Homo sapiens: one gene and its partners. The protein of the gene in region 1 interacts with the protein of each later gene in a pairwise test. Each region holds a gene or a part of one and is shown on either strand. Other genes may lie near its edges.

Evidence for each region.
Region 2: the proteins of ZNF765 (region 1) and DZIP3 interact in binary tests that used the Homo sapiens proteins (3 or more experiments, as listed by UniProt).
Region 3: the proteins of ZNF765 (region 1) and UQCC2 interact in binary tests that used the Homo sapiens proteins (3 or more experiments, as listed by UniProt).

Annotation. Positions count from the first base shown.
Region 1 is NC_000019.10:53,404,679-53,412,550, reverse strand, and holds the end of ZNF765 (zinc finger protein 765), read right to left. Parts: intron 4,854-7,872; coding exon 3,424-4,853; 3' UTR 542-3,423; downstream 1-541. UniProt on the Homo sapiens protein: May be involved in transcriptional regulation.
Region 2 is NC_000003.12:108,584,946-108,592,721, reverse strand, and holds the start of DZIP3 (E3 ubiquitin-protein ligase DZIP3), read right to left. Parts: upstream 3,001-7,776; 5' UTR 2,883-3,000; exon of another isoform or gene 2,626-2,882; intron 1-2,625. Other genes in the region: protein CIP2A, read left to right, coding at 3,347-3,448, 7,510-7,657. UniProt on the Homo sapiens protein: E3 Ubiquitin ligase proteins mediate ubiquitination and subsequent proteasomal degradation of target proteins.
Region 3 is NC_000006.12:33,708,701-33,716,664, forward strand, and holds the start of UQCC2 (ubiquinol-cytochrome c reductase complex assembly factor 2), read right to left. Parts: upstream 3,001-7,964; 5' UTR 2,987-3,000; coding exon 2,849-2,986; intron 2,750-2,848; exon of another isoform or gene 2,608-2,749; intron 2,548-2,607; exon of another isoform or gene 2,335-2,547; intron 2,152-2,334; exon of another isoform or gene 1,995-2,151; intron 1,064-1,994; exon of another isoform or gene 879-1,063; intron 1-878.

The DNA of each region.
Region 1 (7,872 bases):
CTACAGCCTGTTCAGACATGTTATAACAGACTTGTACCAGTTTAATTTGGTGCAAAAACTGTGAAATTCATGCACAATTTTCTCATAATATGTATTTTTCCATGAACTTCATCAAGATCCCTTGTACTAGAAAACTGTATTCAAGAGGATGTAAAAAGGATTGTAGATATTCAAGTGCCACTTATTTCTGGGATGCAAGGATGGTTCAACATATTCAAGCAAATCAATGTGATATGCCACTTGAACAGAATGAAAGATGAAAACCACATCATCTTAATAGAGGGAGAAAAAGCATTTCACAAAATTCAAAATCCAGTCATCATAGAAATCCTAAACAAAATAGATAGAAAGGAAATTTACCTAAACAATAGAAAGACCATCCATGAAATGACCAATGAGTGAATAATCAAGTAGGGAAAATGGAATGCCTTTCCTGGAGGATCTCACATGATGCAAGAGTGCTCTCACCCCTTCTATTCAATCAATACTGGCTGTCCTAGCTAGAGCAATTAAATAGCAGAAGAAATCAAACTCATCGAAATCAGAAAGAAAGAAGTAAAATTATATTTGTTTGTAGACGACATGATCTTCTGTGCAGAAAATCACAAAGAGTCAACCAAAATACTACTGGAACTAAGTAACATATTCAGTGGATTTGCACAATACAGTATCAGCACCAAAAATTAGTTGAATTTCCATACTTTTAACAACAAACAACTTTAAAAGAAAATTTTAAAACACTTCCATTGGCTGGAGAACTTAAAGTAAGAAATACTTAGAAATAAACGTAAAAAGGTCAGAGGTTTTTACCTTGAAATCTACAAACATTGATCAAAATGATTAGAAACATAGAGCTACAACCCATACTTATGGTTTGGAAAAATTAATATTGTTAAATGATTATATAACCCAATGTGATTTAGATTCAACACGGTACCCATAAAAATCCTTATCACTGGGGCTGGGCGCAGTGGCTCACGCCTGTAATCCCAGCACTTTGGGAGGCCGAGGTGGGTGGATCATCTGAGGCTGGGAGTTCAAGACCAGCCTAACCAACATGGAGAAACCCCATCTCTACTAAAAATACAAAATTAGCTGGGCGTGGTGGCTCATGCCTGTAATCCTAGCTACTCTGGAGGCTGAGGCAGGAGAATTGCTTGAACCTGGGAGGCGGAGGTTGTAGTGAGCTGGGATCGCTCCATTGCAGTCCAGCCTGGGCAACAAGAGTGAAACTCCATCTCAAAAAAAAAAAAAAAAATCCCTATCAGTTTTTGTTAAAGAAACAAAAAACAGGCTGGGAAAATGGCTCACGTCTGTTGGCCAGGCTGACCTCAAACTCCTGAACTCAAGTGATCTACCGGTGCTGGCCTCCCAAAGCGCTCAGATTACAGGTGTGAGCCACTGTGCCTGGCCCAGTCCTCTTAACATAAACACTTTAATGTCAATTAAGGCTTCAACTCAATGTTAAGTCAAACTCAAGTCAATGCTGAACTGACTCTAGTGTCAATTAATGCTTGATGGTTTGCTATACACATTGTATTTGGAACAACTATCTCCAAAATGAATTTTCTGATATCCTGCAAGGAGTGAGCTCAGACTGAAGACTTTGGCACACTGATGACATTTATAAGATTTCTGTCCAGTATGCATTCTCTGATGTCTAGTGAGGTGTGAATGTGAATTAAAGGCTTTGCCGCAATCATCACACTTGTGAGGTTTCTCTCCTGTATGAATTCTCCTATGTTTTGCATAGAATGAAGCTTGACTGAGACCTTGTCACAATCATGACATTTGTAAGGTTTCTCTCCAGTACGAGTTCGCCGATGAACTGCAAGTTATGAACAATGTCTGAAAAATTTGCCAAATTTATTAAACTAGTATGATCTCTCTTCATTATGGATTCTCCAATGATTCGCAATGGTTGTAGTGTAACTGAAGACTTTGTGACAATCATTACATAAGTAAAGTTTCCCTACACCATGGATTGCCTGATGGTAAACAAGTGTTGACTGCCCACTAAAGACCTGTCACATTCATTATACTTGTAAGCTTTCTCTCCAATGTGAATTCTAGGATGTTGTGCCAGGTGCGAATTATGCCTGAAAGCCTTGTCACAAACTCTTACATTTTTATGCTATCTCTCCAGTAGGAATTCTCCTGTGTCTTTCAAGGTTTGAGTGTGACTGAAAACTTGGTGACATTCTTCACATATGTAAGCTTTCTCTCCAGTATGAATTCTCCTGTCTTTGGAGGCTTGATTTGCGACTGTAAACTTTGTCACATGCTTCACATTTGTAACGTTTATCTCCAGTATGAATTCTATGATGATGTGCAAGCTTTGCTTTTTGATTTAAAACCTTGCCACGTTCATTACACTGCTAAGGTTTCTCTCTAGTATGAATTCTATGACTATCAAGGTTTGATTTGAATCTGAAAGCTTCATCACATTCTTCACATTTGTAAGGTTTCTAATACGACTTCACCCATGAACTGCAAAGGTATGAAGGATGTCTGAAAAATTTTCTGCATTTATTCTGCATTTATCACACTTGTAGGATCTCTCTTCATTATGGATTCTCCAATGATTTGCAATAGTTGTAGCATTACTCAAGACTTGGTGACAATCATTACATTTGTAAAATGCTGACTGCCCATGAAAGGTTTTTCTACACTCATTATCCTTGTAAGGTACCTCTCCAGTATGAAGTCTACGATGGTGCGTAAGGTATGACTTCAGACTAAAGGTCTTGCCACACTCACTACACTTTTAAGGTATCTCTCCAGTATGAAGTCTATGATGGCATGTAAGGTATGAGTTCTGACTAAAGGTCTTGCCACACTCATTACATTTGTAAGGTATCCTCCAGTATGAAGTCTACGATGGCGTGTAAGGTATGAGTTCTGACTAAAGGTCTTGCCACACTCATTACACTTGTATGGTTTCTCTCCAGTATGAATTCTCCTTTGTCTTTCAAGGTTTGATTTGAAATGGAAAACTCAAATTCTTCACATTTGTAAGGTTTCTCTCCAGTACGAAGTCTACAATGGCATGTAAGGGATGAGGTCTGGCTGAAGGTCTTGCCACACTCATTACACCTGTAAGGTTTCTCACCAGTGTGAATTCTCCTATGTCTTTCAAGGTTGGATTTGAAACAGAAAGCTTCTTCACATTCTTCACATTTGTAAGGTCTCTCCACTATGAAGTTTATGATGGTACACAAAAGATGACGTATGACTCAAGGTCTTGCCACACTCATTACACTTGTAAGATTCTCTTCAGTACGAATTTTCTGATGTATTTCAAGGTTTGATTTGAAATTGTAAGCTTTGTCAAGTTCTTCATATTTGTAAGGTTTCTCTCCACTATGAAGCCTACGATGGCATGTAAGGGTTAACTCCTGATTGAAGGTCTTACCACACTCATTACACGTGTAGTTTCTCTCCAGTATAAATTCTCCTATGTCTTTCAAGGTTTGATTTGAAACTGAAAGCTTCATCACAATCTTCACATTTGTAAGGTTTCTGTCCAGTATGAAGTCTATGATGGTATGTAAGGGATGACGTCCGGCTGAAGGTCTTGCCACACTCATTACACTTGTAAGGATTCTCTTCAGTATGAATTTTCTGATGTATTTCAAGGTTTGATTTGAAACTGTAGGCTTTGTCACATTCTTCACATTTGTAAGGTTTCTCTCCACTATGAAGTCTACAAATGTTAAGGGTTAACTGCTGATTGAAGGTCTTGCCACACTCATTACACTTGTAAGGTTTCTCTTCAGTATGAAGTCTACGATGGTATGTAAGAGATGACTTGTGACTAAAGGTCTTGCTACACTCATTACACTTGTAAGGTTTCTCTCCAGTATGAACTCTATGATGGCATGTAAAATGTGACTTCCGACTAAAGGTCTTGCCACACTCATTACACTTGTAAGGTTTCTCTCCAGTATGAAGCCTACGATGGCATGTAAGGTACGACTTCTGACTAAAGGTCTTGCCACACTCATTACACTTGTACGGTTTCTCTCCAGTATGAATTCTCCTATGTATTTGAAGCTTTGATTTGAAATGGAAAGCTTTGTCACATTCTTCACATTTGTAAGGTTTCTCTCCAGTATGAAGTCTACGATGGCATGTTAGGTAATATGTCTGACTGAAGGTCTTGCCACACTCATTACACTTGTAAGGTTTCTCACCAGTGTGACATCTACGATGGCGTGCAACGTATCGCTTCGAATTAAAGACCTTGCCACATATATCGCATTTATATTGTTTCTCTCCTAAATGGATTAACTGATGTTTCCTTAAGAGTGAGCTACAATTATAGGCTTTGCCACTGTCATTGCATTGGAAAGATTTTTCCCTCATATGTACTTCCTGTTTTTGTGTGAATAATGAAGAATTCAGGAAATTATTCCCATAGTCATTAGAAATATGGGTTTCAGGCCTACAAGAAATTCTTTGGGCTGTTGAAACCAAGGAAGCATCGTGGATAGACTTCACAACTTGATTATCAATTTTCTCTTCAGTGTGAAATATGTGCAGTTCAGGCAGATGCGAATGAAAGCTGAATCCAAGCTGATATTTAACAGGCTTGTTTCCAGCATAATTTTGATCATATCGCTCTGTACTACCTGTCAACTTTTTGATTTTTGTCATGAGTGCTTCATGGCCATTTCTTTCATCTTCTTGCCACTGAAACTCAATGTCATGAATATCTTTATCAATATCCTGGAAACAAAAATCTCCATTGTGATGACTTTCATGTCTTTGAGATGTCCCTGCATGGAACACTTCTCTATTGCCTTGTGCTGTTGACGAGAACTCCTTCATCATGCATTTGGAAGAGATATCTAAAAAGTATACACACCAAAAGGTTTCAAATTAAGTACAGATGGTAAATAATGCTGAAATGTGTAAATATGACACAAAAAACAATACTTATTTTAAACTTTGCAAACATGACCCTCAAAGTTTAGGAACAGAAAAGCATAAGATTCTTTAACAAATAAAGGGCGATTACATGTGCTTCAAATTATTTTTACGGAAGTCTATTTCCAATATCGTGACAAAACACTGACAGGGCACAAAAACGTGTAGCCTAAAGTAAGGAATATTTTTCCATCGTGACCCTAAAGTGTCTAACAGTTTGTAAAAAACATATCACTGTCACATCAATGAAAAGTATATATTCTTCACATTTACAGCATATTTACTGTATACAAATAGATGCTAAAGGACCACATGATGTACTGTGTTGGAAAATAATCCACAACAAGATTATGTAAGGATAACCAAAATCAATGGAAATTCTGTATTGTCAAACAATCATAGCACTGAGAAGATAAGAAAAGATTACAAAATGTAATTTTTAATCTTTTTTAGTCCCAAATTTTTAGTCCCACGTACTCATGGGACTCACGAGGCACAAGAATCGTTTGAACCCAAGAGGCAAAGGTTGCAGTGAGCTGAGATTGCACCACTGTACTTCAGCCTGGGTGACAAAGTGAGATTCCATCTTGAAAAAAAATGTTAATACAATGTTTTTCTGAATAACTGTCATAAAATTACCTATATCCTTGCAGAAAAGGCACATTTTGACATTTTTAAACAAATTTTTTATTTTTATATTTTTGAGATGAAGTTTCACTCTGTCACAACCGCCTGGAGTTCAATGGCCCGATCTCAGCTCACTGCAACCTCCACCTTTTGGGTTCAAGCCATTCTCCTGCCTCAGCCTCCTGAGTACCTGGGATTACACGCACACACTACCACGTTTGGCTAATTTTTGTATTTTTAGTAGAGATAGGGTTTCAACATGTTGGCCAGGCTGGCCTCGAACTTATGACCTCAAGTGATCCAGCCACCTCAGCCTCCCAAAGTCCTGGGATTGCAGGCGTGAGCCACAGCATCCGGTGGCACTGTGTGACATTAACTAGTGGACTGTGTCAGTTATATTGCATACCACATACCGAAAAGCCTCATGTACAATCATAAAAATTAATTAGTAAAATATTGTAACCCATAAAACCAGGAAGCAAATAATAAGTACATTTATACAACATGCAAAATTCTAAACAATTCCCTGTTAAGAAAAATGCCACGACTTCTACTTGCCACCAGCAGACAATATAAGAACTGAAATACATGTTAAGATCACTACCTTCTGACTTATGAGGTCAAAAAAATACACAGCATTATAAGGAATAAGAATTGACTAACGGCTGGACACGGTGGCTCAGGTCTGTAATCCCAGCACTTTGGGAGGCTGAGGTGGGCAGATCATGAGGTGAGGAGTTCAAGAGTAGCCTGGCCAACATGGTGAAATCCCCACTCTACTAAAAATACAAAAAAATTAGCTGGGCATGGTGGTGGCTGCCTGTAATCTCAGCTACTTGGAAGGCTGAGGCAGGAGAATCATTTGAACCCAGGAGGTGGAGGTTGTAGTGAGCCGAGATTGCACCTGTGCACTCCAGCTGAGTGACAGAGTGAGATTTCATCTCCAAAAAAAAAAAAAAAAAAATTGACTAACGGTGTCAGAGGGTGCAATTATGATGTCACAACTACATTTATGAAACAGCCAGGCAATACAGCAATTTTATATATATATATATATATATATATATATATATATATATATATATATAGTTGGTATTAATTATCTAGTTCACTATGCACAAAATATAAAACATAGAATGTGTACTGGGAAAATTTTTAAACTGAGATCAGTGAAAACATTTTATAAATCAAATCATACAATAAAAACACAAACAATATGATGCAGCCTCCCTGGTCTGAATGTTCATATTGGCCAAAAGCCATGTTCAGAGTTCTTATTCTCCAAAAGGATGTTCTGCAGATGGGGCCTTTGAGACAATTTGGTCATGGGTGTTGACTACTCGTGAATAGGACTTGTGCTTTCATAAAAAGAGATATTAAAGAGCTCGTTGCCTGTTCCTGTTTCCACCATGTCAGGACACGGCAGGAAGATGGCTGGGCTAAACCATGAAGAATGCTCTCACCAGGAACCAATTTGGCTGGCACCTTGCTCTTGGATTTCCCACTTTCCAAATTCATGAGAAATAAATTTCTGTGTCTGAAGCCTCCCAGTTTAAGCTATTTCTCTTTTTGTTTGTGTTTGAGACTGAGTCACATACTATCACCCATGCTGGAGTGTAGTGGCATGATTTTCCCACCTCAGCCCGGAGTCTTACTTTGTTGCCTGGACTGGAGTGTAGTGGGGCAATCTTGGCTCACTGCAACCTCCACCTCCCAGGTTCTAGTGATTCTCCTGCCTCGGCCTCTCAAGTACTTGGGATAACAGCCTTGCGCCACCACGCTCAGCTAATTTTTGTATTTTTAGTAGAGACGGGGTTTCAACATGTTGGCCAGGCTGGTCTTGAACTCCTGACCTCAGGTGATCTGCCCCTCTCGGCCTCCCAAAGTGCTGGGATAACTGGCTTGAGCCACCGTGCCCGGCCAAATTCTTGTATTTAGTAGATTTGAGGTTTCACCATGCTGGCAAGACTGGTCTCAAACTCCTGACTTCAAGCGATCTGCCCACCTTGGCATCCCAAACTGTTGGGATTAGAGGTGTGAGCCACCTCGGGTGGCCAGTCTAAGCTATTTCTGACAGTGAAATGACTGAGGCAGGAACAGGAGCATCTCATCATCAACATCACTGAAGGCTGACAAATCTGATTAAACAAAGGAAGTTTAGAGCCTGTACCATAAATCTTGCAATACCTGAAGCCATCTATAGCAATTACGTGTTTTAAAAACTTTGAGGCTGGCCAGGCATGGTGGTTCACGCCTGTAATCCCAGCACTTTGGGAGGCTGAGGCAGGAGGATCACGAGGTCAGGAGATGAAG
Region 2 (7,776 bases), on another chromosome or scaffold:
TTTTTTTTTTTTTTTTGAGACAGGGTCTCCCTCCTGTTGCCCACATTGCCCAGGCTGGAGTGCAGTGGGGCAAACATGGCTTACTGCAGCCTTGACTTCCCAGGTTCAGGTGTTCCTCCCATGACAGCCTCCTGAGTAGCTGGGACTACAGGCATGCACCACCCACACCCATCTAATTTTCTGTATTTTTAGTAGAGGTGGGGTTTCACCATATTGCCCAAGCTGGTCTTGAACTCCTGGGTTCAAGAGATCCTCCTGCCTCAGCCTCCCAAAGTGCTGGAATAAAAGGCATGAGCCACTACGCCTGGCACACCCTTAATACTTTCTATTAACTAACTCAGCAGTATCTGTATCTTCTCATTCATCCAACCTAAAAACTTAGTATCTGCTAGACTCATCCCTCTCTTCATGCCTCACATCCACTATCAGTCACCAAATCCTACCTATTTTACTTCATATATACTTCTCGAATTTGTCACCTATTTTGTATCTCCACCTCAATTATCCTGGTTATCCTTTAGAAGGTTCCAGAAAATTAGTGTCCCTCTTTCCAGTCTTATCCTCCCCAAAATCATAGTTCATTCAGCTACCAGAGTAATCAATCTAAAAACAAACCTGACTAGACCAGGTGCCAGTTTAAAACCAGAGATTGCCACGGACTTCAAGATGGAGTCCAAGTTTAAGGCTAATAAGGCCTTTGGTCATTGGGACCCAGACTCATCTCTTTTTTTTTTTTTTTTTTTGACAGGGTCTCACTCTGCCACCCAGGCTACAGTGCAGTGGCACAATCACACTCACTGCAGCCTCAAGTGATCCCCCCAACTCAGCCTCCAGAGTAGCTAGGACTACAAGTGAGCACACCCATGCCCGGCTAATTTTTTCATTTTTTGTAGAGATGGCGTTTCACTATGTTGCCTAGGCTGGCTCCAACTCCTGGGTTCAAGGTCCTCCTGCCTTAGTCTCCCAAAAAACTGGAAATTAAAAGCGTGAGCCACTGCTCCTGGCCTCCTGCTCCTTTTCTTCCCTTTTTGAGGCCTAAAAGTATGGATTGGTGTTTCTCAAATTAGGATATGCAAGTATCTCTGATTAAAAATGTCAAGACTTATCACAGCTAGAAACGATCCCTCTTACTAAACTTACAACATCAATTTTGGTGAAGATTTTTTGAGAAAGACATTTGATATTAATTACAGAAGAGAATACAAAATTTGTATGACTGCTTAAGTCAAAATCCAACAAAGATGGCACTGATAGCACGCAGCTTTGCGCATTACCCTGGGCCTCTGAATGGGGACGATGCTGACACATCATCACAGATGAAAAGTCCAACACTATCAAACTCTGATCACTTCATTTGCCAATGAGGCACTGACTGTAACACTGAGAACTTAATTATGCCAGATGACAGCTGACACTTTACATTAATTCATTTTTTAACCATCTCCAAGACCGTATAGGACCTCATCTCTACTCCTCTCCTCCTCGTTCTTTCTACACTAGCCACATGGCATCCTTGTTTCTGGCATACAGTATCCCACTTTAGGGTCTTTCTTTGCCATTTCCTCTATCTAAAAACCTTTTCCCATAGAATATGGCTCCCTTTCTCAACTCCTTGAAGCATTTCCCCAAATGTTGCTTTCTTAATGAGGTCACCTTCCCATTTCCCTTATCAATTACCAACATTATTCTAGAGTAATAACGTCTATTTTTCTCTTTATATCATTTTCCTTACTTATTTATTGTGTTTATTATTTGGTTCCCTACCAAAATGTAAGTTGCATGCCAGTAGTATTTTTGTTTTTTTCACTGAGTCTATTGTGTCTAGAAAAGTGCTTAGCACATTGTAGATTCTCAATGAACTACTTATTGAATGAACAGTCCTATGAACCAGGTATCTCCCTTGGCCAGATTTTACCTAATGAAGATTCTGCAGCAGTGAGAACTTGCCTAGAGTCACATCGTCAAAGGTGGAGCTAGAATCTGTAAGCAACCTGGCTCTCTACTCTTTACCACTGCTGCATGTTACTGCATGGTGCCTCTCATTTATGTGGTGAATTTCAAAAGTACTATTTTGTATGTTTCCCTTACTAGACAGTTCCCTCGCAGCAGGGGATACTACTTCATCTCTGTTCCCTGACTGGCAGTTTCTAACCCATGTTACACGCTCTATAATTGTTTACGGAATGAATGAAAGCATAAATGAACACACAAGCTACCCAAAGATTTTTACATGAATGTCCCAACTGGTTAAATCATTTTTATCTTTCAGATTTAAACTTTTATAAAAAACAAAACCAAAACACCAAACCTGTCTTCAAAAATCTAGTAATTCAAAAAAATTCTTTTGAAGTGAAAAAACATGATTTCTGATAAACGATTTAATTAAATGGAAATGTACCCTATTCTTACAATTTCTACATCCTGGTTTTTAAAGCTTTATTCGACGTTAGGAAATATTAAGCAAAAAGCTCCAAAACCAGTAACTGACTCGCTTCATTACATACACATGCAATAATATTAAGCTATCTCCGATTTAAAAAACGCAAATAATAGTGCCATTTTCGTAGACATCGAGAATTATAAAACAATCAATCATGCCAGAGAGAAACAGACACCTTCACTTACAAAAACTGACGCTAACGAGTAACACCCTCCGGAGCAATACCTGGCCCAGGGTCAGCAGGAGGTAGTCTTCTCGAATAAATGTGACAAATACTTTGGTCAGGGCATGACTAATTTGCCACATAATGCCAATAGGTTGACTCTGAGAAACTACCATCCCCGGGCAGAAGGGGCGGGTGTAGGAGAGATTTAAAAACGAGGCCCCTCCCAGGCCGCCTCAAAATCTAGGGCCCAAGATTCTTCTCCTCAGAGCTCCTCACCGTGTCTAGACTAGGGGCAAGCGACCATTTCTCAGGTAGAGGATGACGCACAAACGAAAAACTGGCCATCCAACATGAAGGACGAGGAAGCGCACGAAATCAGAGCGCACAGCTGAGTGAGGAATCCCCCTTCTCCTAACCGATTCCTCTCCCGAGAAATCGCGAGATTTCTCGCCTTCACGGGATCTCAGGCCGAAACCTCGCGGCCTCTCAGACGAGGGTGGGTTAGCGGGGGCAGCTCCCAACCCCCGTCCTGGACCCACAAATCACCTCGACCCCTGGCCCACCCCGGCCGTCACCGAGAACGGTCCCCTAGGGTGCCTAGGGACTTCCGGAGCCCGACCGGATCCGGAAGCTTCTGAGAGCGAGGGGGTGGGGCCGAAAATCAAAAAAAGCGCGGCGAAAGCTAAAGGCCGGCGCACGCTGGGCGGTGGTGGTCCCTAAGCCGGGCCGCGGCCGGTGCAATGGACTCCACTGCCTGCTTGAAGTCCTTGCTCCTGACTGTCAGTCAGTACAAAGCCGTGAAGTCAGAGGCGAACGCCACTCAGCTTTTGCGGCACTTGGAGGTGAGAGGCTCTGGGGTAGAGGACAGATGGGGCTTCCCCTAGCAATTCTTATTTCACAGTGAGGCCGAGGAGTGGCGGCCCCAGCCTGGGAAAGAAAGGACAGTCCTTCGATCCCTCTGTTGTCTTTTCGTACTGGTAAAGGCTAGTGAGTGTCGGGGTTCCGCTGGCCGCAGCGAGAGGCAAGAGCGCTCACTGAAGGCTCTAGGAAAAGCGGGAGTGGGGCAAAAGGTTGGGAAGTTCAGGTTGTTTCGAGTAGGTAACGGAAAAAGCTCGGAACTTTATCTTTTCCTTTGCTTCTAGTTTTGGTTTTTCTACGAAACCAAGCCCTCAATACACAACTATTCTCAGTGACGGAAAGTCATGATTAAAACTTGGTTTTGCCCTTCGGTAATCTATAATTGAATTTGTTGCTTACTGCTCTTACTTGAACTCGGGTTGAACTCAAACTTGAAAAACATTATTTCAACATTAAGAAGCACTTCCCCTTCCTAGTAAGCGTAATCCTTTTTCTTTACCAAAATACATTGCTTACAGTTTTTTAATCTTAGAATGCTGAATTGCCTTTTTTTCTATTCTAGTGATATGTGTCCAGACGATTCCGTTTGTTTTAGGATCTTAATCTTCTGCTTTCATTTGTTTTGCATTTACGGAATTCAAACTAACATTGACCTCAGTTTAATTTTTTTAAAGCTCAATTAAGGCTTATTTTAACTCTCTGTGTCACAGCTTTCCTCTGTTAAGGTAGAATTGAACATAATTTTAAAATATATTGTATTATATTAACCCTATGATAAAAGACTAATGTGCCAAAAATTTGTAAAATATTACAGGAAAAAAATGATTTCCAGTAGTAGAGCAACAGCAGCTGTTAGTGAAGCTGCTGTTGTATTAAATGTGTCTGTCTTATCTTGAGCTTCACTGGTGCTCCTCTTTTCCCTACTTCAAGTGCCCATCTCCTAAGTACATTTGTTTTCTCTTTTTCATTCTTTATTTTAAGAAGTGCCTGCAAACCTAATAATTAAGGTGTTAGCTGTTAAATGCTTAAGGCTTTGCTTCTGAATTAGCATAGGCTCCAGAAGCCGCAGAATAAGCAGGGCAGTCCGTTTAATTTAAAAATCGGGAGTTAAGCATTTTGTATGCTATTCTGAAGCATTACCTTTCTTTGAATAAACAGGAAGGTTGTGCACTGAAAGAGATTTAAGGCACAGGGGCTTACACCTGTAATCCCAGCACTTTGGGAGGCCGAGGCGAGCGGATCACCTGAGGTCGGGAGTTTGAGACCAGCCTGACCAACATGCGAAACCCCGTCTCTACTAAAAATACAAAAATTACCTGGGCGTGGCGTCTCTCTGTTGTCCCAGCTACTCGGGAGGCTGAGGCTGGAGAATCGCTTGAACTCGGGAGGCTGAGGTTGCATAAGTAGAGATCGCTCCACTGCACTCCAACATGGGTGACAGAGTGAGACTCCGTCTCAAAAACAAAACAAAAAAAAAGAGAGACTTAAACAAAATATGGGATGGGGTCTTTACTGTATTCCTAAACTTTCAAGGGGTTTACATAAAACTCTTCTACCGTTGTTGCAAAGGTATGAAGAGCACTGGCTTCAGGTTACTACTAAAAAGGACTTTTTGTAATTAAGAGATAAAATACATACAGAGCATAAAGTGCATTAATCTTAAGTGAAGAGTTTGATAGTTTTTAATATATAGGTACCATAGCTACCATATTGGTAGCTAACATATAGGTAGAGTAGCTACCACCTGTATCATGATACAGAACATTTCTAGCCCCATAGGGTTTCTTCATTGCCTCTTCACATAAGGTTTGGGTAAGTAGACTCATACAATATGTACTCTTGTGTCTGGCCTTTTCCACTCAATAAAATCTGTGAAATTCATGTTGCACATGTACCGCTACTTCATTTTTTTTATTATTGATGTGTAGAATTCTATTGTATAAGTGTACCACAGTTTACATACACTTTCCTGTTGATAGGCATTTGGGTTGTTTACATTTCTGGGTGGAATTAAGAATAAAGCTGTTGTAGACATACATTTTTTGTGGATATATGCACACATTTATATACTTAGGAGTAGAATTGTTAGAGCATTGGAACATATGCCTATATGTTCCGTTTTAGTTGAAACTGCCAAACAATTTTCTGAAATATGCCATTTTATCTTCCCACTAGCAATATGTGAAATTTACCATCACTTATCCACACCAACCCTTGATGTTTTCATATTTCTTAATTTTAACCATTTTGGTTGACAGTATTTGTATTTTTAATGGTGAATGTCTTTGTACAGACTTCATGAGAGCGAGATCTGAGTATGCAAAGAGAGATGGGTATCATGTGAAAGGAGATTATTCATTCTTCTGTACTTCTCCCACACTTTTATAGCCCCATGCAGAGTGTAGGCTTTGAATGTTTGATGACTGGCAAAGCTGAGCTAATCTGATTTTTAATGATGATGTTTCATAACACTAATTTTGTGTAGTGATTAAAAGCATGAATTCAGGAACCAAGCTGCCTAGATATGAATTCCAGTTGTGCTTCTTTACTATCAGTGTGTACCTCAGTTTACTCATCTGCAAAACAAAATAGTGGTACCTACCTTATAGAGTTATTATGAAGATGAAAAGAGTTCACATATGTAAAGTGCCTAGATCGATGCCTAGGCCAGAGTAAGTGCTGTATAAGTATTAGTTATTATTAAAATAAATTATCTTTGTTTTAAGAGATTCAGTATAAGTAAAGGGAAAACTTGTAAAGCAATTTTTATTTTACCTAGTGCATATAATTATTACATGTTAGACAATTTATGTTAATGAGATACAGGACCAATCCTATAGAGAATCATTTTTAAAACAGCAAGTGTCTTATTCTGGAGAGCTAGATTTATAAATAAGCAACAGGGTAATGCCCACAGTATTTCCTACCCCAGAATATCTGTTACTGGCATCTGCACTTTCATATTTGGACTTATTTTTTCTTGTATAGACTTTTACTTTAGTAATGTTAAAACACTCCTTGGGAACAGATAATGTGAAACTCTTATCAGCAAAGCCTTAGAAGAAAAACTGATGTGGGTGAGAGAATAAAGGGAGGATACAGAAAGGAAAGATTAGAGGGATGCTAAAGCAGCCTGCTTAGGCTTGATCTTATTAAAATAAGTATTCAGGACAGAGTTAGTCTTATTCTAAGGTAACTAATGGTTTTGCCATCTTTGTAGAAAAGATATGCTTTGTAATAAATACATCCATAAAGTATGTTGAAAATTCATGCTTTGAGACAACTGCTTTTGGCCTTTAGTTCCAGCTTTACCTCCTCTCTTCTCTCTTTCACTCTGTGTGTGTGTGTGTGTATGTATGTGTCTGTGCATGCGTGTATGTGGCTTATAGATTACAAGAAAGTAAAAAAAACAATGGAATAATCAGAAATAAAATTTTTCAATGCCTTGCCTGGCTACTTAAAAAAAGATTCACTTTTCACTTCCTTCTTTAATCCCTTAACTTCTGAGCTCACCTATTGTCTTTGGGAAGAAGCAGAAGGAATAATCCCATAACTACCCTCTGGGCTTCATTTTTCATTCTCCTCCCTCAAAGTAAGTAGAATGTATTAGAATTTATTTGCATAGTAAATATATTGGTACTAGAGTGCAGATTTGTAGGCTATGCCTTCATCGCATGTTCAATGTAGTGTGAAGGAGAAATATTGCTAGGAACTCAAAAGTTTGCTAACTTAGGAAATAGAAATATAATGTACTATAGGATAGCATAATAGGCCGACCGAACTGAGATGGTATAAGAAACTAAGAAAAGCTTCCTGGTGGAAATTATTTTAAACTGAGATCCAAATGATTACTTTAGCTAGGGAGGGAGGGATTAGGTAATTGATGGGTACTCTAGGCAGGGGTGAATTTTTCACAGCATGTGTGAATTTTTTAAATTGGGAAGGTAGCAGTGGCACTTTGAGGGAACTGAGTTTTTTATTTGAAATGGAGAAGAGATGAAAATTGCCATCGCTTAACCAACACATTTTGATTACTATTTTATAGGTAATTTCTGGACAGAAACTCACACGACTATTTACATCAAATCAGATATTAACAAGTGAATGCTTGAGTTGCCTTGTAGAGCTACTTGAAGACCCCAACATAAGTGCTTCACTGATCTTAAGTATTATCGGTTTGCTGTCTCAACTAGGTAATGCATTTAATTTCTCCTTTTTAGTTTTTGGAAGATGTATGAACAATATTTTAAAGTGCAGGCTTAGTTATAGAATCTCTTAAAGAATGATTCACCTTCAAAGACTTCTCAGTCTA
Region 3 (7,964 bases), on another chromosome or scaffold:
CAGTTTAATGAAGAGCCTACCAGAATCATCTTGCTTTCTCAAGGTCTTTATAAATGATCTGGGGGTGTCAGTAGGAGTGACTCACAATAGTGTTTTCAATTCCAGCAAGGAATTGCGCCCTTCAAAAATTACCACAAAGATTTACTAAGGCCAGGTGCATTCTCAGGTGACATTAGGATGAGGTACCGCAACAGTGGTCCTGAGTAATGCACCTGCTGCCATTGTGCACTGGTTCACTCTACCAGGAATGCATTCATCAGCTGCTACAGAATCACTAACACAGCCATGAGTTGCATCTGCAGCTGGGACTCAAACCTGTGTGGGCCTTTGACTGATCAGAAACGATTGCCCTAGGTGATGACAACTCCGAAAGAGAAAACTCTTTCCTCCTTTGCTGGCTCCTCTTACACTAACAATCAAGCAAGTGAATGTTACGCTCTCTCACCTCCCCAAGGATGGAGCCGCTGACTGCTCAACTGTAAGCTCCTCAGTGGTGAAGGCCAGGTTATGGCCTTCCTCCATAGATCCTGCAATTTCCCAAACATGGTAAGCTCTCAAATCAATTCTCACCACTCAGGACACACAAATATTCCTTTCTCACTCTTCACAACTTCTCTTCATCTAGTTCTGCTACATCTGAAACTATATTCAAATTATCTTTGTCTCATGAGCCACAACCAATTATTTACTTATCCATTCAGACATTTACTGAGTGTTTTTTTATGGGCCAAGAACTAGCTAGACACTCGTAGGGGAGAGAGGGAAAGATAAAAATGGCATCATCTCTATTTTCAGGAAGCTCATACTAAAAATATGCAGGGAGTACAGCTTTAGAAAGTTCACGGGTTTGTAGAATTGGGACTAGATAAGATTCTTGCCTTAAAGATCTTTACACTTTGGGCCAGTGAAGACCACCATGAATAATGTGAGGGCCCTGGGTATCGTATAACCTGGGCCAGACACTCCCCAGGCTGCCAGCCAATCAGCAGTACAGTCACAATGATGCCACTGGGCGTGCTCCTGCTCCTTTAGGTGGGCTGGCTTGGCTCTGTTTCGGGCTAAGCTGAAAAAAAAAAAACCCATGTTCCTTCTGTAACAAGTCTTGGCCAAGTTTCACAAGTCATTTCTTCAGACTGTGTGTATATGCATCTCATTATCTCATTTCATTTCTGGTCTCTTGCCCGAGCCCCAGGCTCAAATATAGCACTGCCTACTTGACATTGCCACTTGGAAATCAGTGTACTTGGCATCTCAGGTTTAACCTGCTTAACACCGAACTCGAGATATTCTTCCTACACTTCACCTATTCCTACCTCAGTAAATGGCACCATCTTAGACCTAGATGCCCAGGCCAAAAAATATCTAGGTGCTATCTTTGGTTCCTCTCTTTTCCTTTATCCCACATCCCATATATCAGCAAGTCCTGCTGACTCAACCTGCGCATAACCTGAATCCAACCACTTCCATCTTCTGTGCTGCCGTCCTCATCCAACCCCCCACCATCTGTCGCTTATAGTACCATAATCGGCTTCTCTCCAGCCTCTTTTTTTGTTATTGCCCCCTATAGCCCACTCACCACATACAACCAGAATAGTCTTTTAAAAAGTAAATTAGGGCACATCAGTCCCCTCACTAAACATCCCCAGTGACTTCTCACTGGCCTTATAATGAGGTCTAAAGCTAATCAGAACAGATAATATCCTACTGTGCCTGGCTCCGGACCTTCACCTTAGCAAACTCCACCTTACTTACTACCCTGCAGCCATTCTGGCTTTCTTTCTGTCCTCAAACATGTCAATCTGCCTCCTGCCTCTGGACATGTGCAGTGTCTGGAATGTCCTTCCCGCCAAGTGTACATGGCTGGCTCATCCTCTTGCCTTAGGTCTCACCTATGTGTCATCTCCTCAGAAAGGCCCCACTAATAACATTACCCTTTTATCACGCTACCCTATTTTCTATCGATCACAGTACTTATCTGTCTTACGTACACTTACCTGCTTATTGTGTCCTGAACTACAATGTAAAACTTCATGCGGGCAGGACTTCACCTGTTTAACACTGCTGTTTCCCTAGCACCGTTCCAGGCATATGGTAGGTGCTCAATAAATACGAGCTATATGAATGAATGAATCCCAGAGCTGCAGCGCCAACCTGGAGGAAAGCAAGAACATAGGCCTACTACTCACACACAGCTGCGTGAGCTGAGGACCCAAACCTGCTGCACAGGCTTACAGGGGCTCAGGAAGAACGCAAACGCTTAGCGGGGACCTGCAGAGTTAACTGGGGATTAGCTCAGTCAATACACAACACTGCGAAATAATGAGGTAATGCTACCGTGACAAGGAAGCAAAAAGCTGAGGCTGTCACCAGCTGCCACTGGTGGTGTGGGTCTCAACTCTCTCTGCACCTTGAATCACCTGGAGAGCTTTTAAAACTCTGAGGTCAAGACCCCACCCCTAGAGATTCTGCATTTGAAGTTTTTGTTTGTTTTTTGATTTGTAGAGACGGAGTCCCACTATGTTGCCCAGGAGGTCATCCTGGGCTCAAGCGATCCTCCCGCCTCGGCCTCTCAAAGAGTGCTGGAATTATAGGTGTGAACCGCCGCACCCGGCCCATCTGGAGTTTAAAAAAAGCTTCTTCGGCAATTCCAAGGTGCAGCCGGGGGAGAGCGCTGAATACAACGGGCGTCGCTATCAGTAGCTCCCTGGGGGAAAAAGGGGGTCCGCGCTCACGTGCTGCCTGGAAAGAGGGCGCGCGCATGCGCAGATCCCCCTGCTAGCGCGCTCGTTGGCCCCGCCCCTGCCTCGTCCTTTCCTCCCCTCGTCCCAGCCGCCTCCCCGCCGGTCACCTGGGTATTCTCTCCCTCCCGAAAGGCCTGTGCTACCCGCTGTCGCAGGTAAGCGCCCAAGTCCCGGCCCCGTTTGGTCTCGTCCACTGGCCATTCCTCACAGAGCTTAAGAAAACGCCGGTACCGGCTGGCCGCCATCTTGGGCCCCGCGTGTTCCCGCCTTAGCGGGAGGAGTCGGCGCCGACGAATGGCGCTTGCGCACTAAGCCTCGCCGCCTGCCTTAGGAGTGGAGCGGGAGGCCGGAGTGGGCATGCGCGACTTTGTAGGCGCACCGCTACTCTCCGTGTAGGGGCGCTGCTCGCCTTTCTCTGCAAGCCGAGCTAATTCAGTCTTCGTCCTCCTGGAACCGGCCCAGCTCCCAGGGGCAAGGCGGACGTGGAGTACCCCAGAGACAGCTTTGCGTCTCTTTTTCAATGACTGCACAAGCTTGAGACTAAAAAACCCTCCCCCGAGGCCTCCGCTGTTTTGCATAAACCAATATATTTGCATGTAAATACAGGTTACTGGATGAAAATATGTTTGAACGTTGTTCGTGGGTGCCCCCGTACCTGTCACTATCCCTTGGTACTCGGCCTCAATTCCTTCTTTAGTGCTTCCTAGTTCTTGTTCTTCTCTGCCCAGTCCCTGTTAGTATCCCTTCTGTTCCCCCCTTCCTACCCCTCATAAGCCAGACATTTTTCTCTGGGAGGCGCAGGTTTTCTAGCATGAGCAATGCCAACTGTGTTGATTCAGACTAGAAAAACTTTTTTTTTCTTTACAATTTATTATTTTGTATTGTGGTAAAATACACATAACAAAATTTACTATCTTAACCATTTTTTTTAGACAAGGTCTTGCTATGTGGCCCATGCTGGTCTCAAACTCCTGGGCTCAAGTGATCCTCCCACCTTGGCCTCCCAAAGTGCTGGGATTACAGGTGTGAGCCACCACACCTGGCCTTAACCTTTTATTTATTTATTTATTTATTTTGAGATGGAGTCTTGCTCTGTGGCTCTGTCGCCCAGGCTGGTGTTCAGTGAATGGCGCAACCTCCGCCTCCCGGGTTCAAGTGATTCTCCTGCCTCAGCCTCCCAAGTAGCTGGGACTACAGGCGCCCGCCATCATGCCTGGCTATGTTTTGTATTTTTAGTAGGGACAGGGTTTTACCATGTTGGCCAGGCTGATCTCGAACTCCTGACCTCAGGCGATCCACCTGCCTCGGCCTCCCAAAATGCTGGGATTACAGGCGTGAGCCACGGTGCCCAGCCAGCCATTTTTAAGTGTACAGTTCATGGGTATGAAATAGCACTGAATAATGTTGTGCAGCCATCGCACCATCTCCGTAACTCTTGTAAAACTGAAACTCCATACTCATTAAACAATAAATCCCCATTTCCCCCTCTCCCCCCAGCCCCTGGCAACGACCATTCTATTTTGTCTGTATGATTTTGACTACTCTAGGTACCTCATGTAAGTGGAATCCTGCAGTATTTTTGCAACTGGCTTATTTTGCTTAGCATAATATTTTCACTTCAAGGTTCATTCATTTTGTAGCATATGTCAGAATTTCCTTCCTTTTTAAGGCTGAGTAATATTCCGTTGCATGTATATACCACATTTTGTTTACACATCCATTGATAGACACTTAGGTTGCCTCCATGTTTTAGCTCTTGTGAATAATGCTGCTATGAACATGGATGTACAGACATCTCAAGACCTTGCTTTCAATTCTTTTGGTATATACCCAGAAGCGGAATTGCTGGATCATATGGTAATTCTATTTTAAGTTTTTTGAGGAACTGCCATACTGTCTTCCACAGCAGCTGCACCATTTTGCACTCCCACCACCGGTGCACAAGGGTTCCAATTTCTCCACATCCTTACCAACATTTGTTATTTTCTGGTTTTTTGATAGTAACCATCATAATGGGTGAGGGCTGTATCTCAATGTAGCTTTGACTTGCATTTGTCTAATGATTAGTGATATTGAGTATCTTTTTATGTGCTTATCAGCCATTTGTATATCTTCAGAGAAATATCTATTCAAGTCCTTTACCTGTTTTTAATCGGGTTTTTTTTTTGTTGTTGTTGTTATTGAGTTTTAGGAGTTCTCTGTATATTCCAGATATTACTCCCTTCACAGCTATGTGATTTCAGAATATTTTCTCCCATTAAAATGTGTTTGTTTTATCAAGTCTTCTCTTATATGTCTCTAGCTACATCACCATGTGGACTAATTTTTGTTCTCAAAAGACTGTCCCACCATCTGCATTTTTCATAAGAAAGCCTCAGCCCCCCGTATATCTCCACTATCCTGTATTTAGCCAAGACCATCCAATGTGTACAAAACTTTGCTTCCTCCAAACCTTTTCCTTCTTGCCTTACCTACATTTTAAAGGTGAATCTAGGAGAGTCCTGCCTTCAAGAAGTTGATGGCCAAGTCTGGGAATGTGTACATAACCAGGACACAAAGTTACAGATGACGAGAGCTTTAACTGAAGTGTTAGACAATGCTAGAGAGTTTGGAGAAACAGATGTCTGCTGTTCAGGGGAGAGTGGGAGAAGATCAAGGATGGCTCCAAGAACAGCCAGAGGCAGGCCTGGGGTGGCAATGGGAAAGAGAGGGAGGAGTTTAATTTGAGGAAAGATCAATGGGTGATTTTAACTGGAATGGCTTTAACTGTTCCGAAGATGTTAGGAGTCAAGACCATTAAAGGAAAACCTCTGGGGACCAGAATGTGTGATGCCCGCTGAGGTAAGGAGAGTTCAGGGGGAGTGGAAAATGAGGCGCCCAAGGGCACCTTCTCCAGAAAGCTCCCCTGATTAACCCCACCAGGTTCCCAGCCCAGCAGTCCCTCCTTGCTCCATCCTCACCTCATAGCCATGTAGTTTTGATGACACCCCTAAGGCACAAAGGGCAAGGATTGTATCTATTTACTTACCAAGGTCCAGGCACCTAGGGCTGTGCTGGGTGCCCCGAGGCGCTGTCATAGCCGTGGCTTTGAAGAGCACCTGACTGGTCCACATCTGTCCCAGGAGGCAGAGCCAAGGTCCCTCTGTCTTAGGCAACCAAAAAGTAACATTAGGTGGCAGCAAATGGTTTTCATGCTGCTTGAGGTACAAGGACAATGAGAGGTTGAGAAGAATGCTGGGCTCCAGAGGAAGCGCAAACAGATGCTTCCTCCTAAGGTGCTCCCTTCCCCTGTACCCTAGCTTCTCCGTCAGGCTGTGGTTGTCCCTGGTTCTGACTGCCCTGCCCACCTCTCTTCCTCCATATGGAGGTTGTTTGGCATGGTAGTTAAGTAGTAGGGTTATGGAGTCTGAGAGACCTGTTTGGAATGTAGGCTTGCTCATTCATTCATTCATTCATTCATTCATTCATTCACTTACTCACTGATCTATAGCCCTGATCACTCTATCAGTATAATTTTCTGGGGCCCAGTGCAAAATGAAAATGTAAAGCCCTTTGTTAAAAAATTGTTAAGGCCGGGCGTGGTGGCTTGTGCCTATAATCACAGCTACTTGGAGGCGGGAGGATCACTTGAGCCCAGGAGTTCGAGACCAGCCTGGGCCACATAGCGAGACCCGCATCTCCCCAAAAATTTAAAAAATTAGCTGAATGTGGTGGTGCACACCTATAGTCTTAGCTGTGTGGGAGGATGGCTTGACTGCTTTGAACCTAGGAGTCAGAGGCTGTAGTGAGCTGTGATTACACCACTGCACTCTAGCCTGGGTGACAGAGTGAGACCTTGTCTCTAAAAAAATTGTTAAGAATTTCAAGACAATAACAGCAGAGCATTAAAGCAAATGTAGCCCCTTCTGAGTGCAGGGCCCTGGGCGACTGTGCAGGCCACACACCCATGAAGCTGGCTCTGAGTTCCTGTCATGTGGTAGACAAGACAGGTGAGGGCCCTGCCCCTATGAGGACAGACAGCAACCAAGCAAACATATAATAATAATAGTGCTCTATATGTATTAGCTCATTTGCTGAATGAACAAGATAATTTCAGATGTGATAAGTGCGAAGGAGAGATCAAGGCAGAGTGCTGGGTCCACAGTGATTGGGGCAGGGGAGGGGTCAGTGGTCTGGAGGCCATCCCTGAGCAGCTTGTGAGTCACCTGAGGGGGCAGCCACGGGAAGATGGGCATGAGAGGCTTCCAGGAACAGGGCAGCAAAGGCAAAGGTCTTCAGAGCAGCCAACCCCAGGCGGGTTATTTAATTGCTGTAAGCTTCAGTTTCTTCATCTTAAAATGAGAACTATGATGATAAATTAACACCGAGTATTTACTATGTGCCAGCACAATTTTTTTTATTTTAATTTTTTATTTTTATTTTTTCTTTTTTAGAGACAGGGTCTCACTCTGTCACCCAGGCTGGAGTGTAGGAGCACAATCATAGCTCACTGCAGCCTCGAATTCCTGGGCTCAAGCGATCTTCCTGCTTCAGCCTCAGCCTCCTGAGTAGCTGGGACTGCAGGTGGCCACCACGATGCCCAGTTAATTGTTTTATTTTTTGTGGAGATGGGGTCTCGCTATGTTGCCCAGGCTGATCTCGAATCCTGGACTCAAGTAATCCTCTGGGCTTGGCCTCCCAAAGTGTTGGGATTATAGGCATGAGCCACTGTGCCCAGCCCAGGCACAATTCTAAATGCCTTACATGTATGGACTCATTTAGTCCTCACAATGGCTCTCAGATTTATGTACTACTGTTATCCTGCCATTTTTACAGAAACTGAGGAAACTGAGGCACAGAGAGGATAAGGTCACCAGCTGGTAAGTGGCAGAGCCAGGACTTGAGCCCAGGCTGGGTGGCTCAGAGCCGTGCTCTTGGCCACTCCCTCAGGCACCTCTTCAGGCCCCCTTGCAGCATTATCATCGTAAACCATGTGCGTGGTGTGTTTATACACCTGGTGTAGCCTTGGCCAGTGCCAGCACAAAGTAAGCCAACACATCGCAGTGGCTCTTATTGATCATTTTCTAGGCCCTTTTCCTTTCCCTGTGCCTGAAGATGGTTTCAGCCAGTCTGGACTGACCCGCTTGTCAATCACCCAGCGCCATTCCTAGCACATTAATAGGCACTGCCTGGAATGCAGCTGGGTGGTGCCAGCACCTTGGGGAGTTGATGACCATTTTAACA